Regions from separate parts of the Homo sapiens genome. Here region 1 is linked to region 2. A link means that fine-mapping ties the variant in region 2 to the expression of a gene that starts in the linked region. Tissue or cell type: whole blood. Region 2 holds a variant in brackets; the other region holds the start of a gene. All regions are shown on one strand. Distances are from middle to middle.

The links. PIP is the estimated chance that this variant, and not a neighbour inherited with it, causes the effect.
Region 1: PADI4 starts here. The variant in region 2 is fine-mapped to the expression of PADI4 in whole blood (INTERVAL, PIP 0.96).

Annotation. Positions count from the first base shown.
Region 1 is chr1:17,304,743-17,312,917 of GRCh38, reverse strand. It overlaps PADI4 (peptidyl arginine deiminase 4), which reads right to left and starts at 4,721. Exons shown (of 16, transcript NM_012387.3): 1 at 4,604-4,721. The coding sequence starts at 4,695. RefSeq lists an enhancer at 7,539-8,175.
Region 2 is chr1:17,350,020-17,358,194 of GRCh38, reverse strand. It overlaps PADI4 (peptidyl arginine deiminase 4), which reads right to left. Exons shown (of 16, transcript NM_012387.3): 11 at 3,508-3,662; 12 at 2,068-2,212; 13 at 1,736-1,838. Among named protein-coding and RNA genes, the nearest start is that of PADI6, 18 kb to the left of the region's middle. The variant CATAAAACAAATCTG/G (reference allele first, on the strand shown) is at 3,914.

The DNA of each region.
Region 1 (8,175 bases), 45 kb after region 2:
GCCCAGCCCCATTTTGTTTCTAAATAAGATAGCTACAAAGATTAAAAAAAAAAAAAAAAAAGCTACATATCTCCCTCACAATTTGCCGACAAGGAAATTCCTTGTGAGCCCTAAGATCTTTCCCGTGAACCAGTTCTGTTGAATTTCACCCTGACAATGTAAGTTAATAGCTTATCTTCACAGGCATGGAACAAAGGACAGAAATCAAAGTTATCCCTCTGCTTACCTGCAACAAATGCATATCTGATTTCTTCCCTTGCTCTATGTTTATCATTTGTGACAATATAGATTCCCTGAGCTCAAGGCATAAGTGACTATTCCTCTCCCCACCTCACACGGAAAATGTATTCAGTGAAAGCTGATCAAAGACTCAATGCAACCACTTACCTCTTATCTACCCATCTTTTTTTTCTTTCTTCCTCTTTGCCCCAATACCCACTTTTTTTTTTTTTTTTTTGAGGCGGAGTTTCACTCTTATTGCCCAGGTTGGAGTGCAATGGTGCAATCTCAGCTCACTGCAACCTCCGCCTCCTGGGTTCAAGTGATTCTCTTGCCTCAGCTTCCTGAGTAGCTGGGATTACAAGCGTCTGCCACCACGCCCGGCTAATTTTTGTATTTTTAGTAGAGATGGGGTTTCACCATGTTGTCCAGGCTGGTTTCGAACTCCTGACCTCAGGTGATCCACCCTCCTTGGTCTCCTAAAGTGCTGGGATTACAGGCGTGAGCCACCACATCCGGCCCAATTCCCACTCTTTTCCCTTTAAATATTGAAGTCCCAGACCCATTTAGGAAAAAGCACGGACTACAGATTTTTCCTGTTTCTGTATTCTTTTCCTGGGCACGTCCTTAACCTTGGAAATAAACCTCTGAAAATGATTGACACTCACTTTAGTCATTTTCTTTGATTTGCATTGGAAAGGGGACCCCTCTGCCAGACACTTTGTGTGCATTATATAATTCAATCTTCGCCGTAACCCAGGAAGGGGTGTTAATTTTCCCATTTTACAGATGGGTAAACCGAGGCTCAGAGAGACAAACAGACTTGTCCAGGCTCCCCACTGTCATGCCAACTGGTCTATTCAGAAGGAAACCCGGCTGGGCGCGGTGGCTCAAGCCTGTAATCCCAGCACTTTGGGAGGCCGAGGCGGGTGGATCACGAGGTCAGGAGATCGAGACCATCCTGGCTAACACGGTGAAACACCGTCTCTACTGAAAATACAAAAAAATTAGCCAGGCATGGTGGCAGGCGCCTGTAGTCCCAGCTACTGGGGAGGCTGAGGCAGGAGAATTGCGTGAACCCGGGAGGTGGAGCTTGCGGTGAGCCAAGATCTTGCCACTGCACTCCAGCCTGGGCTGGACAGAGCGAGACTCCGTTTTTAAAAAAAAAAAAAAGAAGAAGGAGACTTTGGGAGGAAGAAGAGAGACCATAGATGGCAGCTTCTGAATGCACACTGCCCTTTGCAGTTGGCACCTCCTGGACCCCCACCCCTTCTAGGCCTTTACCAAATCCTTTGGAAGTTGAATGAGCTCTGCCCACAGGGAGCAGTGCCCAGGGGAGTCCACTCCCCAGCATTTGGAGGCAGGGTGGGCTGCGAAGCAGGGTGGGTTTAGGGTCAGACAGTCCTGGCTTTGCCACCTTTAACTTTTTTTTTTTTGAGACAGAGTCTCACTCTGTTGCCCTTGCTGGAGTGCAGTGGTGCAATCTTGCCTCACTGCAACCTCCACCTCCCAGGTTCAAGCAACTCTTGTGCCTCAGCCTCCTGAGTAGTTGAGATTACAGGCATGTGCCACTACTCCCATCTAATTTTTTTTTTTTTTTTTGAGACGGAGACTCACTGTGTTGCCCAGGCTGGAGTTCAGTGGCACAATCTCGGTTCACTGCAGCGTCCGCCTCCTGGGTTCAAGCGATTCTCCTGCCTCAGCCTCCCAAGTAGCTGGGACTATAGCTGCGTGCTACCACGCCCGGCTAATTTTTGTATTTTTAGTAGAGACGGCGTTTCACCATGTTAGCCAGGATGGTCTCGATCTCCTGACCTTGTGATCCGCCTGCCTCGGCCTCCCAAAGTGCTGGGATTACAGATGTGAGCCATTGCGCCCCGTCTAATTTTTTTGTATTTTTAGTAGAGACGGGGTTTCCCCATGTTGGCCAGGCTGGTCTCGAAATTCTGACCACAAGTGATTTGCCCATCTTGGCCTCTCAAAGTGCTGGGATTACAGGCATAAGCCACCGTGCCCAGCTTGCCACCTTTAATTTATGTGACCCTCGGTTAGGTGTTTTTGCCTCTTTTTTTTTGAGACAGAGTCTTACTCTGTCACCCAGGCTGGAGTGCACTAGCCCAATCTTGGCTCACTGCAACCTCTGCCTCCCGGGTTCCTGACTTTGGGGACAGAGAGAATGGCTTGAGCAAAGTTATGGAGGCATGAATATGAGGGGCGGAGGTGAGGAGGGAGTGGCCCTCCCACCTGTGTGGTTCAGGAAGAGGCCGATGGCTGCTCAGGAGATGGGAGGGAGGCGCTGTCTGGGGCTATGTTAAGAACAGATAAGAAGTGACAGGAAGGTCTGGAACGGAGACCCATGGGGAGAATGGAGGGTCCTAGAGTCAGGCTGCCTGGGTTGAGTCCTGGCTCCCCTACTTATTAGCTGTGTGGCTTGAGGTGGGTTACTTAACTTCTTGGAGCCTCTGTTTCCTCTTTTGTAAAATGGGAATAACAACATTACCTGCCTCCCAAGGCCATTGAATGAGTTGAATGTAGGAAGTGTGATGTAAATATTAGCCATTGTTACGTGAGATGTTCAGGGGATAGAGTGACAGGCTCAACGTGTGGCTGAAGGAGGAGAAAAGAAGGATTTAGAGGCCCCTGTGAACTCCGGAGTCCCCATCCTTTCTGGGAGAAATGGGCAGTGCCTTCCTCTCTGCCCAACACTGACCAGCTGTCCACCCACCTCTCTAGGGCCAGAGGAAGCACTTGTGATCTTGATTACTACTCATGGACGCTGGGTAGAGGGCTAGCCTGGGCATGCTGGGAGAGGCCCTGGGCTAGCTTCAGCTCCTGTCATTTCCTTCACACCCATTCTCAGAGGAGTTGGGGGCGCCTCAGATGATGTCAGGTGATTTTCTTTTTCCTTTTCTCCCCAACTTCTTGGTCTCCTGCCTCCACCATGTGGCCCTGGGAGACCATCCCGACATTTCCTGCTGTTCTCTGGCTGCTGGGGCTCAGGCAGTAGCAAAGAAATGTCCCCGGCACTCCTGTGGGCACCATTCTAGGGCCACCGATGCCCAGACTGGGATGGGGAAGCCAGGGGCAACCACTCCTATTCCTGACAACAGCAATTGTTGCAGGATAATTTAGGAATCAGAGAGACCGAGGGGTTGAGGAGGATTTATTATTTAGATTCACTGGCTCAGTCAGGCTAACATTTCAAAAGACTGAGCCCTGAACAAAGAGTTAAGTTATCTTTTAAGCATTTCATGGGGCGGGGGTAGATCTGTGCAGGGGGAAGCATATTATAGAGGCAAGAAACAAAGACAGTTATTTAATTGAGACATGCATTATATTATTTTTTACTTTTTAAGGAAAAAAATTTTTACAGCTTGAGTTTATCTGTCTAGTGACCTTGCAGCTGCACAGCTGGAGAAACAGGGTCTTTACAATGCCTGGAAAAAGAGGAGCAATAAGGCTCACTAGCCACAAAAAAACAGGCAGTTAATTTTTAAGGGACTCCAGCTCTTTTTTTTTTTTTTTTCCAGGGAAAATTGTTTTTTTTTTTTTTAACATAGAACTGAGTTTTTGCTTACACGTTTTAAAATTTCTTTTAATTCCTGTTCTACAATAACAACAATGACCCTGCACACTCCCCGAGAGCATTCCTCAACTCTCTTGTTTAACCCAGACCCTGCCACAGAGCATGGCACTCAGCATTTGTTAAATGAGTAAATAAAAACTACCAAGGATGGGCCCACCACTGTGCTAAGTACTCAGCCAACATCTGCACATTTTTTCACATTGAATTCCTATAACCAGCCCATGATGTGAGTATTATCCCCATTTCACAGATGAGGCAACTGAGGCTCAGTTGCCCAAGGCCTCCTTGCTAGCCAGCAGCAGGTCCAGGCTTCCTACCTCAGTCTCTGCCGCCACAGAGCCCCGTTTCGCCATCCCCACCCACGCTATTATGCACCCACTGAGGGAGGCTTAGCTAAGAGATGTGGGGTAACAAACTGTGCTGTGAACCAGGAGGCCCAGGGGCTAACCTTACTTCCAGGGCACACGTGCTGTGTGACCTTGAGCAAGTCACAGACTCTCTGTAAGCTTCTGTTGCCTCGATGAAGACAGGGAGATGGATGGCCTGGTTTGCCCCATAATAATTTATCTGTCGTGTGTTCCTGGGGAATTTGCACTTGTACATGGCAAAGAACCCACAGCCATGAGACTGGCACTTCCCAGGGCTGCTGGGGTCTTCTCTCTCCAGCTACTCCCCTGGCAGTGGCTGCAGAGGCTGGAGCCTAGAGCCTGGGCCAAACACATGCTCCTGTGTCAGTAGAACTGGGTCATCCAGCATCTCCTGACCTGCCTCCAAAACCCCAGAAGGCCCCCCTCTTACCTGCAGATGTCAAGCTGAGTCAAGGTGCCCAGCACACACACGGCATGGGTGGGCTGCTCTGGGGTCACACGGATCAATGTCCCCTGGGCCATCGTCGGGCTAGCTCGTCCCTCTGGCTGTAGGAAGCCCCTGGGCTGGTTCCTTTATATCGCCCAGCAGAGGCCATGAGTCAGCACCTGCGGTCTGTGGCCCAGAGGCTCAACCCCTCCCCACTCAGGTCAGGGGTGTGGGCTCTCAAAATCTCCTCTGCCCTGGGGCTGCCCCTCGGACCTCTAGATGGGTGTCAATGCTGGTACCAGTGGCAGGGTGGCTCTGTCAGTTTCTTGGGAAGGATGGATGGCTCAGAAAGCCTGGGGTGGAGAGTGGGGCTGAGGGGTTGGGTCCTGGTCCTCATGCCCACAGTCCCATCCCTGCCTAGAGGCCCTGAACACCTTGATCTATCCAATCTCACCTATGTCAAACAGGCATATCAGAGAGGAGAAGGTGGGAAAAGCGGGGAGATTTTAGGTAAGCAGTCACAGGCCAGGCTACACGTTCAAAGACCAACCAGGCTTGGGACAAGTCTCTCCACCTGGGCCACCCACATGACAGCTCACATTCTCTATGCCAGGCACGTTTTCCTGCACTTCACATAGAATAGCTCATTACGACAAACCCGTGAACTAGATCATACCATTATCCCCTTATTTCACCCTCACAGCAGCCCTCTGAGGTTGGTGCCATTATTATACCCATTTTACAGAGGAGAAAACAGAGGTGCAGTTCTTCCACAGCTCGAGAGTGGTAGGGCCAGAATTGGAACCAAAGGTGTCCAGTTCCAGAGTGTGAGATTCATTAGCTGCCTGTCTATATGACACGTGCTTTCCAGACTGTATCACAGCTACATCTCGCTACAATACAAGGTGTATATGGGCTTATTATTACAACCCATTTTACAGAAGGAAAATTGAGGCTCAGAGAGTAAAAGTGACTAGCTCTTGCCCAAGGTGCCAGAGCTAGAATGCGGCAGAGCTGGGAAGAGAAGATGAGCTTCCTGGCATGGAAGTTGATGTTCTCTGCATGCTCCAGGATACCTGCCTCTTGCCAGGGCCTCTGGGTGTCAGACCAGACAGTGCAGGTGTGGGCCACGCCTGCCAGGGGGATGCCCATGTGGCCTCAGAGCTGTGGTTGCACCTGGGCCATTGGTGCCAGGCTCTGCCTTTAATGAGGCAACTGGGGGGTGGTGGATGGGTCCCAACAAGGAGCACTCAAAGGGTGCATGCATGGGAGTCTGGCGTGAACATAGAGCGTTTCGTGGGTTGGATATCTTGCGTTTGTTTTTTGTTTGCTTGCTTTGGCTTTGAAGCAAAGAATTTGCCTCATTAATTCAGAGTCAGGCTGTGGGATCAAACAGGCTTTAGTTCAAATCCTGCCTCATCTCAACATCCCTATGGAGTGCGTCCTATCAGGATGCCCATGTGTAGATGAGACCACAAAGACTTAGAGAGATTGAGTGAGACCCCCAAGGTCTCATAAGCCCTACAGTGGGGATCTGGATTCAGACCACCTTCTCTGGGCTCAAAATTTATCTTCTGTACCAGCAGATGATGATGTGGCCAGGTCCGACGTTCTGACGCATCTACATGACTGCCTGCACACAGTGTTAATAAACCCAATTTCTCTGGCTGACCGCATGATTAGAACTAGTTTGAGCTTCTACTGGGAAGTGGCAGGAGGGAGCTGTCCATTGTTAGAGTTGGGAGGGCCCTTAGAGAACACCCAATCCAGTCCTCGTTTTGCAGAAGGGGAGACTGAAGCACAGAAAGGGAGTGGGACCTGCCCACGGTCACACAGCAAATCAGAGGGAGGGCTGGCCTCTACCCCAAGTCTTAGGTCTCTTGAGGTTGTTTTCTTCTGTTCCTTCTTTTCTTTCTTATTTTCTTCAGCAGTTTGGGGTTTAAATTTGCTGTGAACGAGCCACAAAGAGGACGAGCCCCAAAGCAGTTTTGTTAATTCAACAAATACTGACTGAGTGCCTATTGATGGCCAGGCACTGTTCCAGGCACCGTGGATACGCTGTGAACAAAGTGGACAAAAATCCTGCCTTCATAGAGCCTTTTTGTTTGTTTGTTTTTGTTGGGAGAGAGACAGCCAGTAAGCAATAAATGCAGTAAGTGGATTCTATCGTATGTTAGTGGGGTAGAAAAAGGAAAAAGGACAGGGTAAAGGCTACCAGGAACACAGGGAGAAGGTTCCAAGTCAAGAGAACAGCCAGTGCAATCGGTACAAAGGCCCTGAGGCAGGGACATGCCTGGCGGGTTCAAGAAAGAGCAAAGAGGCCAGTGTGGCTGAAATGCAGTGAGGGAGGGGGAGAGCAGCCCAGGGCGGGGTGCGATCATATAGGGCCTTTCGGGCATCCTAAGAGCTTTGGCCTCTGCTCCAAGTAACGTGGGGAGCCTGGAGTCATTTTGAGCAGAGAAGGACCGCGAACCAACTTGCTTGAACGTGATCACTCTGGCTGTGATGTGAGAACAGACTGTAGGGGACCCGGGAGGAGGCCAGAAGACCTGTGAGGTGGCCGCTGCACACAGGCTGGTGACAGACGGTGGGGCTCAGGCTAGCGTGGTGGCAGTGGAGGAGGGGAGGATGGGTCAGGTTCTGGACATTTTGTGATGCAATACAGCCAATAGGAGTTGCAGAGGGACTGGATGAGGGGTGTTAAGAAAGACAGAGGGATGGAGGAGGACACCGCAGTTTGGAGCCTGAGGCCCTGGAGGGATGGGGCTGCCCGCAGCTGGGCAGGGAAGGCTGAGGGAAGGGCGGGGGGTGGGCATGGTGGAGATCAGGAGTTTGGTCCTGGCTTTGCCAAGTGTCATTTGGTGTGATGATGCCCTGTAGGACGTTTGAACACATGATTCCGGAGCTTAAGAGACAGGACCAGGCTGAAAAGGATAAAACAGTGAGATGTCAACATCTCCAGCTCCCCTAGGGAATGAGTGAGGATAGGGAAGAGAGAAGGCCGAGGGATGAGCCCTGGGGTCCTCCACCAGAGACCCAGGGGAGTGATGAGGGAGAGGAGATGCAAAAGAGAATGCATGCTATTTGCAATTACACAGGGAGCAATGCAAAACTAGGTTTGTAACACACACACACACACACACACACTCACTCACACTGAGGGAAAACGGCTGCACTTTGGAAGCAAAGCCTCTTTGTAGAAACACACTTGGTCACTCACAGTGGAACAAGGGCCACGGGCTCTGTGATGGGCAGGGCTGAGGGCAGGAGCCAAGGGCAGTGGAATGAGAGGCCAACAGACTTGGGGCTGGCGCGTGCCCCACCTGTGCCTGCAGCTCCAGCTGCATCCTGACATGGCTGCTCCCCTACTGTTGGACATGGGGGCTGTCTGCAAGTTTTCAGTGTCATAAACCATGCAGCGATGCATCACTTGTGCCCGTGTCTGTGGTTATTTGCAGGTATGTTGTAGATTCATCTTTGCCCCTCTTTAGTTTTTTGGCAGAGCGCTTCATTCTTTTCCTGAGATTTGCCACACCTTGTGTTTAAATGCCCATCCCCCAGCTAGCCTGAGAGCA
Region 2 (8,175 bases):
CTCACTGCAACCTCCACCTCCCGAGTTCAAGCGATTCTCCTGCCTCAGCCTCCCCAGTAGCTGGGATTACAGGTGCGCACCACTGCGCCCAGCTAATTTTTGTACTTTTAGTAAAGTCGGGGTTTCATCACGTTGGCCAGGCTGGTCTCAAACTCTTGACCTCAGGTGATCCACCCGCCTCAGCCTCCCAAAGTGCTAGGATTACAGGTGTGAGCCACCACACTTGGCCTAGTTTAATATTTTCTTGTTTTTTTTTTTTTTTTTGAGACTGAGTCTTGCTCTGTCACCCAGGCTAGAGTGCAGTGGCACATTCTTGGCTCACTGCAACCTCCACCTCCCGGGTTCGAGTGATTCTCCTGCCTCAGCCTCCCAAGTAGCTGGGATTACAGGCACCCGCCACCACGCCCGGCTAATTTTTGTATTTTTAGTAGAGACGGGGTTTCACCATCTTGGCCTAGCTGGCCTTGAACTCCTGAACTCGTGATCCACCCGCCTCGTCCTCCCAAAGTGCTAGGATTACAGGCATGAACCATCGCGCCCAGCCTAGTTTAGTGTATTTTAATAGCACACTTACAGGAACAGCACAGAAAACAGACAACATTAAAAATATCTACTTGCATGCAGGACAGACAGCTCAGAAAAGTATAGTGAATGGATGGAATCTACTGTGTGATAAAAATGCTACAAGTACCATTTAGTTGCTGTCAATAAGAAATGTCCTTGTTTTAAGCCAGGCGTGGTGGCTCATGCCTGTAACCCCAGCACTTTGGGAGGCCGAGGTGGGTGGATCACCAGGTCAGGAGTTCGAGACCAGCCTGGCCAGCATGGCAAAACCCCATCTCTACTAAAAATACAAAACATTAGCCAGGTGTGGTGGTGCACACCTGTAATCCCAGCTACTCGGAAGGCTGGGGCAGGAGAATCACTTGAACCCGGGATGCAGAGGCTGCAGAGAGTCGAGATCGCGCCATTGCACTCCAGCCTGGGCAATAGAGGAAAACTTCGTTTCAAAAGAAAAGAATGTCCAGAAAAATTTAACAGGTTTACTTATAATTATTATAAAGTTGAACCATGAAACTTGTTCACTGGAACATTTTGCCTTGCATTAACGCTAAATTATCTTATCTCCAAAGAGATCCCATCGAGAGAGGAAGAAACAGGTCAGCCCTCTCCTGATGCCACACAACATACTCAGATCTGAGGTGGAGCTCTCAGCCACAGAGGCATCTCAGCCCGGGGCCTGGCCCATGTCTGTGAGCTCTGCTGAGAGAGTAATATTTCATCTGTGCTCCAGCTATACCGAACCTCCCCGAGGTCCTCACACACATCGTGCTTTCTCCTGCCTCTGAGCCGCCCCACCCCCGTCCCTCTGCCTGTGGTATCTCTCTTCCTCTCATTTCCCTGCCCCGTTTGCCCAGCCAACCCCTACTTGCATGCTACTGCTTGGCCTCTGCCTCCTCCAAGAAGCCTTCCCTGAGCTCCATCCACTCAGACACCCCTCAAAGCCCCTGTGTTGGAGCTGTTCTTTTGACTCACTTCCCCCTGGCCTGTGAGCCCACAGGGCAGCAAGCTGTTCTGCCCTGTTCATGCAGTCTCCCTAGCACTTGGCACAGTGCCTGGCGCACAGTAGGTGCTCAGATGCTACCCTATTGCCTGGATGATTCCCTCCAGGCAACAGCGGACTATGGGAAGCAGGAAGGTGCACAGACAGGAGAACAAGGCAGGGCCGACTTACTCTTGATCCCTTCGAACAGCAGGGCCTCCCCGTGGCCCTCATTCTGCTGCTCCTGGAACAGTTTGTAGCAGGACCTGGGGCTGGCCAGGAGCAGCCGGAAGCCCTGGAGGCAGAAACACTGGGGTTAGAAGTCAGCTTTGCCCCTGGAGCTCCCAACGAGGGTGGATCTGCTGAGGGTGGGAGTAGTGTGGACTTGGACCCAAGCTGGCCACCTCCTCTACTGCCATCCTAAGGGTGAAGGAGAAATAGACAAGTAAAGTTGCTCCCACCCCAGGCAGAGGGTCTACCCAGGAAGGAGGCATGGCTTCCTGAGGCAGCCCCCAAGACTGTACCTTCCTGTCGGGTGCTGGCACAAAGCTCAGGAACTCGTCCACGTGGCCCACGGACAGCCAGTCAGAATAGAGCTTCACAGGGGCCTGCACCTGCTGGGCACTGAGGAAGTCCTGCAGGGCCTGGTGCATCTGCCGGCTGTCATTGCTGTCATGGCAGGGTTAAAGGGGTGTTATCGGCAGCAAGGGCTACAGGGAAGTCCCTGAAGGACAAGGGGCTTGGCAAAAAGGTCAGGGTTCTCCTTCAGCTGAGAAAGGGATGCAGGAGTCTAGAATGCCTTTATTTTATCCCCTAACATTTGAGAAATCAAGGAATTGTCATTCTAGTTTTATTGGGGGAAACTGAGGCACAGAGTCACTAAGGTAAGTAGAACAGAGCTTAGCCTCAGAAAGCACTGCCTCTTGAGTTAGATGAGATGCTGGTATTCTGGGTACACATGGGGCTTAGAGCCAGTCTGACCTAAGTCGGTGATCTCTTGTTAGCCATGTGGCCTTGGGGACATTCCTTCACCTGTTTGAGCCTCAGTTTTCTCCTAAAAAAAAAAATTAGTGTTGCAGTGCCTTGTTCTTCCTCACTTTTTTTTTTTTTTTTGAGACAGAGTCTTGCTCTGTTGCCCAGGCTGGCACAATCTCGGCTCACTACAACCTCCGCCTCCCGGGATCAAGCGATTCTCTTGCCTCGGCCTCCCGAGTAGCTGGGATTACAGGCATGCATCACCAGGCCCAGCTAATTTTTGCATTAGTAGAGACGGGGTTTCGCCATGTTAGTCAGGCTGGTCTCGAACTCCTGACCTCAGGTAATCCACCTGCCTTGGCCTCCCAAAGTGCTGGGATTACAGGTGTGAGCCACTGTGCCCAGCCTCTTCTTGTTCAATAGGTTCTAGCCATCCTGGCCTTGCACGCAGGAGCTCATTCCTGCCTCAGGGCCTTTGCACATGCACTTTCATTTGCCAGGAACTCTCTGTCCCAGATCTCCAGGTGGCCCTGTCCCTTCTGTCATTAGGCCTCAGTTCAAAAGCCCCTTCCCCAGAGAGGACCTCCCTGGTCACCCTAACAGTTCCTATTCCTCCCGTGCCCCTCTCTTTTGTTTTTGTCATTTGAAGTTATCTTGTCTACTTTTCTATCATCTGTTTCCCTACTAGAGTAGTGGTAAGGACTTGTCTTTCTTGTCCACGGCTGCATTCCCAGCTCCCAGAACATTTTGGATGCTCAGTAAATATTCACTGACTGAAAGAGGGTAAGTGGCAGGGCTGGAATTGAACTTGGGTCTATGGGCTCCAAAGCCCGCATTCCTCACCCTGCGCTTGGATTCCTCTCACACTCCCTCAAGTCTGTTGGGCTGTCTAGAATCGGAAGCAGGAAGGCAAGGCTTCCACTCTGGCCTCTGCTTTTCTACGGCATACCTGGGTCCTGGCCACCCCTTCCTGTTACTCCCCTCCTTACCTGGGATAACAGCTGTCCCCGAAGAGAATCCTGCCCAGCGGGTATTCCTTGCCCCTGACTGTGACTGGGGGGCTCACTTCCAGGTTCCCAAAGGAGTCCAGTCCACTGATACCCCCTGTTTGGGGCCCTCGAGTTACATAGCCAAAATCTGGACCCTGAGATAGGAGAAGGGAGTGCCAAGAGTTAGAGGAATGAGGTCCCTGGTGAAGGGTCGGGGGGTCCAAGTTTAGAGATGAACTTGGGCACAGGAAGTAACTCAGTACCGTCTACAGCTGGCACATAGCAGGTGCTGTTATCACATGTGGAAGGTTAAAGGAATGTTGAGTTCATTCAATGGACAAGAAAAGGGACTAGCATTTGTTGGGTCCCTAAAGCGTGCCAGCTGCTTGGTAAACCTTAACTTGGG[CATAAAACAAATCTG/G]TAAAACATCATTTTTTTTCCCCTTAAGACAGAGTCCCACTCTGTTGCCCAGGTTGGAGGGCCGTGGCATGATCTCAGCCACTGCAACCTCCGCCCCTGGTTCAAGGAATACTCCTCAGCCTCCTGAGTAGCTGGGACTACAGGCACGCCCCACCACGCCCAGCTAATTTTTGTATTTTTTTTTTTTTTTAGTAGAGATGGGGTTTCACCATGTTGGCCAGTCTAGTCTCGGATTCCTGACCTCAAGTGATCCATCTGCCTCGACCTCCCAAAGTGCTGGGATTACAGGCATGAGCCCCCACGCCCAGCCACATTTATTCTCTTAAAATTCTGGAGGCCAGAAGTGTGAAATCAGTTCCACTGGGCTTAAGTCCAGGGATGGCAGAGCTGGTTCCTCCTGGAGGCCCTGAGGAAAGAATCTATTATATTTCCGTGTCTTTTTCAGCTTCTAATAGCCGCCTTGGCTGGCAGCCCCTTCTTCCACCTTCAAAGATCTCCAGTCTCTGCTTCCATCATCACAGGCCCTCCCGCATTCCAGGATAAACCAGGATAATCACCCCATCACAAGATCCCTAATATAATTACATTCAGCAAAGTCCCTTTTACCATATAAGGAAACATCAGGTTCGGGGGGACTAGGATGTAGAGGGGCCATTATTCAGTCCACCGCCCATCTCCCCTGCCTCCCAGGAGAGGGTACATCTAGCCTTCTACACATAGATGGTCCATTCCCTGAGGCTTCATGGGGGCCATGAACTCCCTGAGAGTAGACGCCAAATTATGTGCCCAGGTGTGAGTTTCTGGGAAGATGAGTGGGTCTTAAGGAGGTCTGTGATCTTCAAATTTACTTCTTCACTGCAGTTTTGACCTCCTGGGCTCAAAGGATCACGGTCCCGTCTCAGCCGCCCGAGTAGCTGGGACCACAGGTGCATGCTATCACAACCTGGCTAATTTTTAAAGTTGTTCTTTCCTGTAGAGATGGGGTCTCACTATGTTGCCCAGGCTGGTCTCAAACTCCTGGGCTCAATCTTCCTGCCTCGGCTCCTAGAGTGTTGGGATTATAGGTGTGAGCTACTGCGCCTGGCCTGATTCCACAGATTTAACAATCACACTTCCAGTTCCTCTCTCCACTTCTCTCTAAAACCCAGACCAACCCGCTTCTCCCGCCCATCAAAGCTTTCCTTGTCCAGGTCTCCATGAACACATGGCCATATCCCAAGTGCAATGCGCGGGCCTCGCCTTCCCCTCAGAAGCCCCTGAATCAGGCGGTCACACCTGTGTTCTCCGCACACTTTCTGCACTTGGCTTTCAGGACACCGGGGGATCCTGGTTCACCTCCAACCTCACTTGCCCCTTCAGTCGTCCTGCCAAGTCTCATGGAATTCCGTTCCCGAGCCGACAACCCTCATGTTCGCATCTCTGGGCATCCCTTCCCTCCCAAACATCACATGTGTATCCACGCTCACTTGACTTCCCATTTGGATGTTGACCAATTGTCTCCCACTTGCCCTAAACAGAACTTTGGGTCCCCTCTTCCCACCCCCTCATTCTCCATCAATCTGTTCCTCCTCCCACAGTCCTCCCCTCCCAGGGGATGGTGCCTGCCACCCACAGAGGTCACAGCCTTGCTGTCAGCTTTGGCTTGCCTCTCTCATAGCGGGGGTCAGAATGCCCTGCTGGCTCTGCCTTCCAGACATAGCCGGAATCTCATGGCTTCTCACCTCCTCTGGCCACACCCTGCCTGCACTCCCAGCATCCCTCACCTGCCCACTCCCTTGCCCCTTGCCTCTGTTCTCTTTACTCAACAACACATAGCAGGGCTTGTTCCCTTTTCTAACAAACCAGATCATAATCCTCCTCTGTTTAAGACCCTGTGATGATTCTCAGTTTCTAAACAAGCAGCCTTAACAGTAGCCAACAAGCCCAACCCCATCCGGTCATCCCGTCCCTTCCCCATCACCTCTGACCACAGCCTCTTCTACTGCCCCCCATCTCCTCCCATCACCTCCTTGACCACCTCTGCTACCACCTCCCATCTCTTCCCTGACCACCCCTCTTACCACCTCCCATCTCCTCCCTGACCGCCTCTCCTACCACCTCTCATCACCTCCCTGATTGCCTCTCCTACTGCCTCCCATCACCTCTCTGACCACAGTCTCTCCTACCACCTCCCATCACCTCCCTGACTGCCTCTCTTCCCACCTCCCATCACCTCCCTGACTGCCTCTCCTCCCATCACCTCCCTGGCCGCCTCTCCTCCCATCACCTCCCTGACTGCCTCTCCTCCCATCACCTCCCTGGCCGCCTCTCCTCCCACCTCCCATCACCTCCCTGACCGCCTCTCCTACTGCCTCCCATCAGCTCCCTGACTGCCTTTTCTACCACCTCCTATCTCCTCTCTGACTGCCTCTCCTCCTGGTTGCTCTGCTCTACCCCTCCAGGCCCTCTTGCTGTTCTGGAACACTCAAGGCATGCTCCTGCCCCAGGGCCTTTGCACTGGCTGTTTCACTGCCTACAACACTCTTCACCCAGACACCCACTCACATGGCCAACTCGCTCACCTCCCTCAAGCATCTGCTGCAAGGTCAGCTTCTCCGTGAAGCCCACCCTGACCATCCTATTTAAGAACGCAATCTTTTTTTTTTTTTTTTTTTTTTTGAGACCAGGTCTTACTCCTATTGCCCATGCCAGAATGCAGTGGTGTGATCATGGCTCACTGCAGCCTCACCCTTCAGGGTTCAAGGGTCCTGCCACCTCAGCCTCCTAAGTAGCTGGAACTATAGGCATGCACCACCATGCCTGGCTTATTTTTATTTTTATTTTTAATTTTTTTTTTTTTTGTAGAGACAGGGTTTGACTATGGTGCCTAGGCTGGTCTCGAACTCCTGGGCTCAAGTAATCCACCAGCCTTGGCCTCCCGAAGTGCTGGGATTACTGGAATGAGCCACCAGACTCGGCTTTAAGAATGTAACCTAATCCACCTTCCCTACCACGCTGGCACCTATGAGCCCCTCCATTCCGCTCTACTCTGTCTTTCCCTGTAGCTCTTTTTTTTTTTTTTTTTTTCCTCTGGGACAAGGTCTCATCTGTCACCCAGACTGGAGTGCAGAAGTGCAATCATGACTCGCTGCAGCCTTGACCTCCTGGGCTCAAGCGATCCTCCCACCTCAGCCTCTCTAGTAGTTGGGACTACAGGCATGTGTTACCATGCCTAGTTAATTGAAACAATTTTTTTTTTTTTTTTGTAGGGACAAGGTCTCATTATGTTGCCCAGTCTGGTCTCAAACTCCTGGGTTCAAACAATTCTCCCACCTTGGCCTTCCAAAGTGCTAGGATTACAGGTATGAGCCACCACACCTGGCACCTGTAGCTCTTGACATCCCCTTCTAAGGAACCATATAACTGCTTTGTTCTATTCATTGTCTGCTGTCTGTCTCTCTGGGCCAGAACGTCCCCTCCGTGAGGTCAGGGACCTTGGCGTTGCTCCCTGTCATATCTCAAGTGCCTAGAACAAGGCCCCGCTGAGTATGTGTTCAAACAGTGTTTGATGAATGAATGTAAATTCAGCCACATCACTGCCCTGGCTGTTGTTGTGAGAGGGGGTCAGTTATACAGCCTTCAGCCTTGGATTTCTGCAGGCAAATGAAGGCATATCCATAGTCTGCAGAAGTGGCCCCCCAAGAGTGGGCTGTGTGGGGGACGCTCATGGATGCCAGGTGATGCGGCCTGAGGCACAACGTTGGAAAGCTGTTGCCCTTCTCATTTTCCTCCAGTCTTTTCTGGTTCCTCAAAAATTCAAGTTTCAGTGATGCAAACACATCCTTGACACCTGCTAATCCCTCATTTTAACCAGCAGAGAGCTGACCTCGAGCTCAGAGATGCTGCAGTCACTTGTAACGAGCTGGCTTTGGTAGCAGGATCTTGTTTCATTCTGTTTAACTTCACAGTTGCCTTCTATCTGCAGGAAGTGCTGCTGGTTTCCCATTGATGGTGGTGATAGAAAATTTACTGACGATGCTTACAGGAAGAACAACCACTGTGTGTGAAGCTTTGTGCCAGCTGCCCGATGGACAGCGTAAGGCATAACAGCCTCAGGCCCAGCAGCGCAGGCAACGAAAAGTAGATGAACGAGTCCATGATTTTAACAAAATACACTGAAGAAGTCAACAGGGGGCTGTAGTGGAGAAGGCTAGGAGTTGGGGTGGGAGTAGGGATCCCTCTTTTAGCATCAGGGAAGGCCTCACTGAG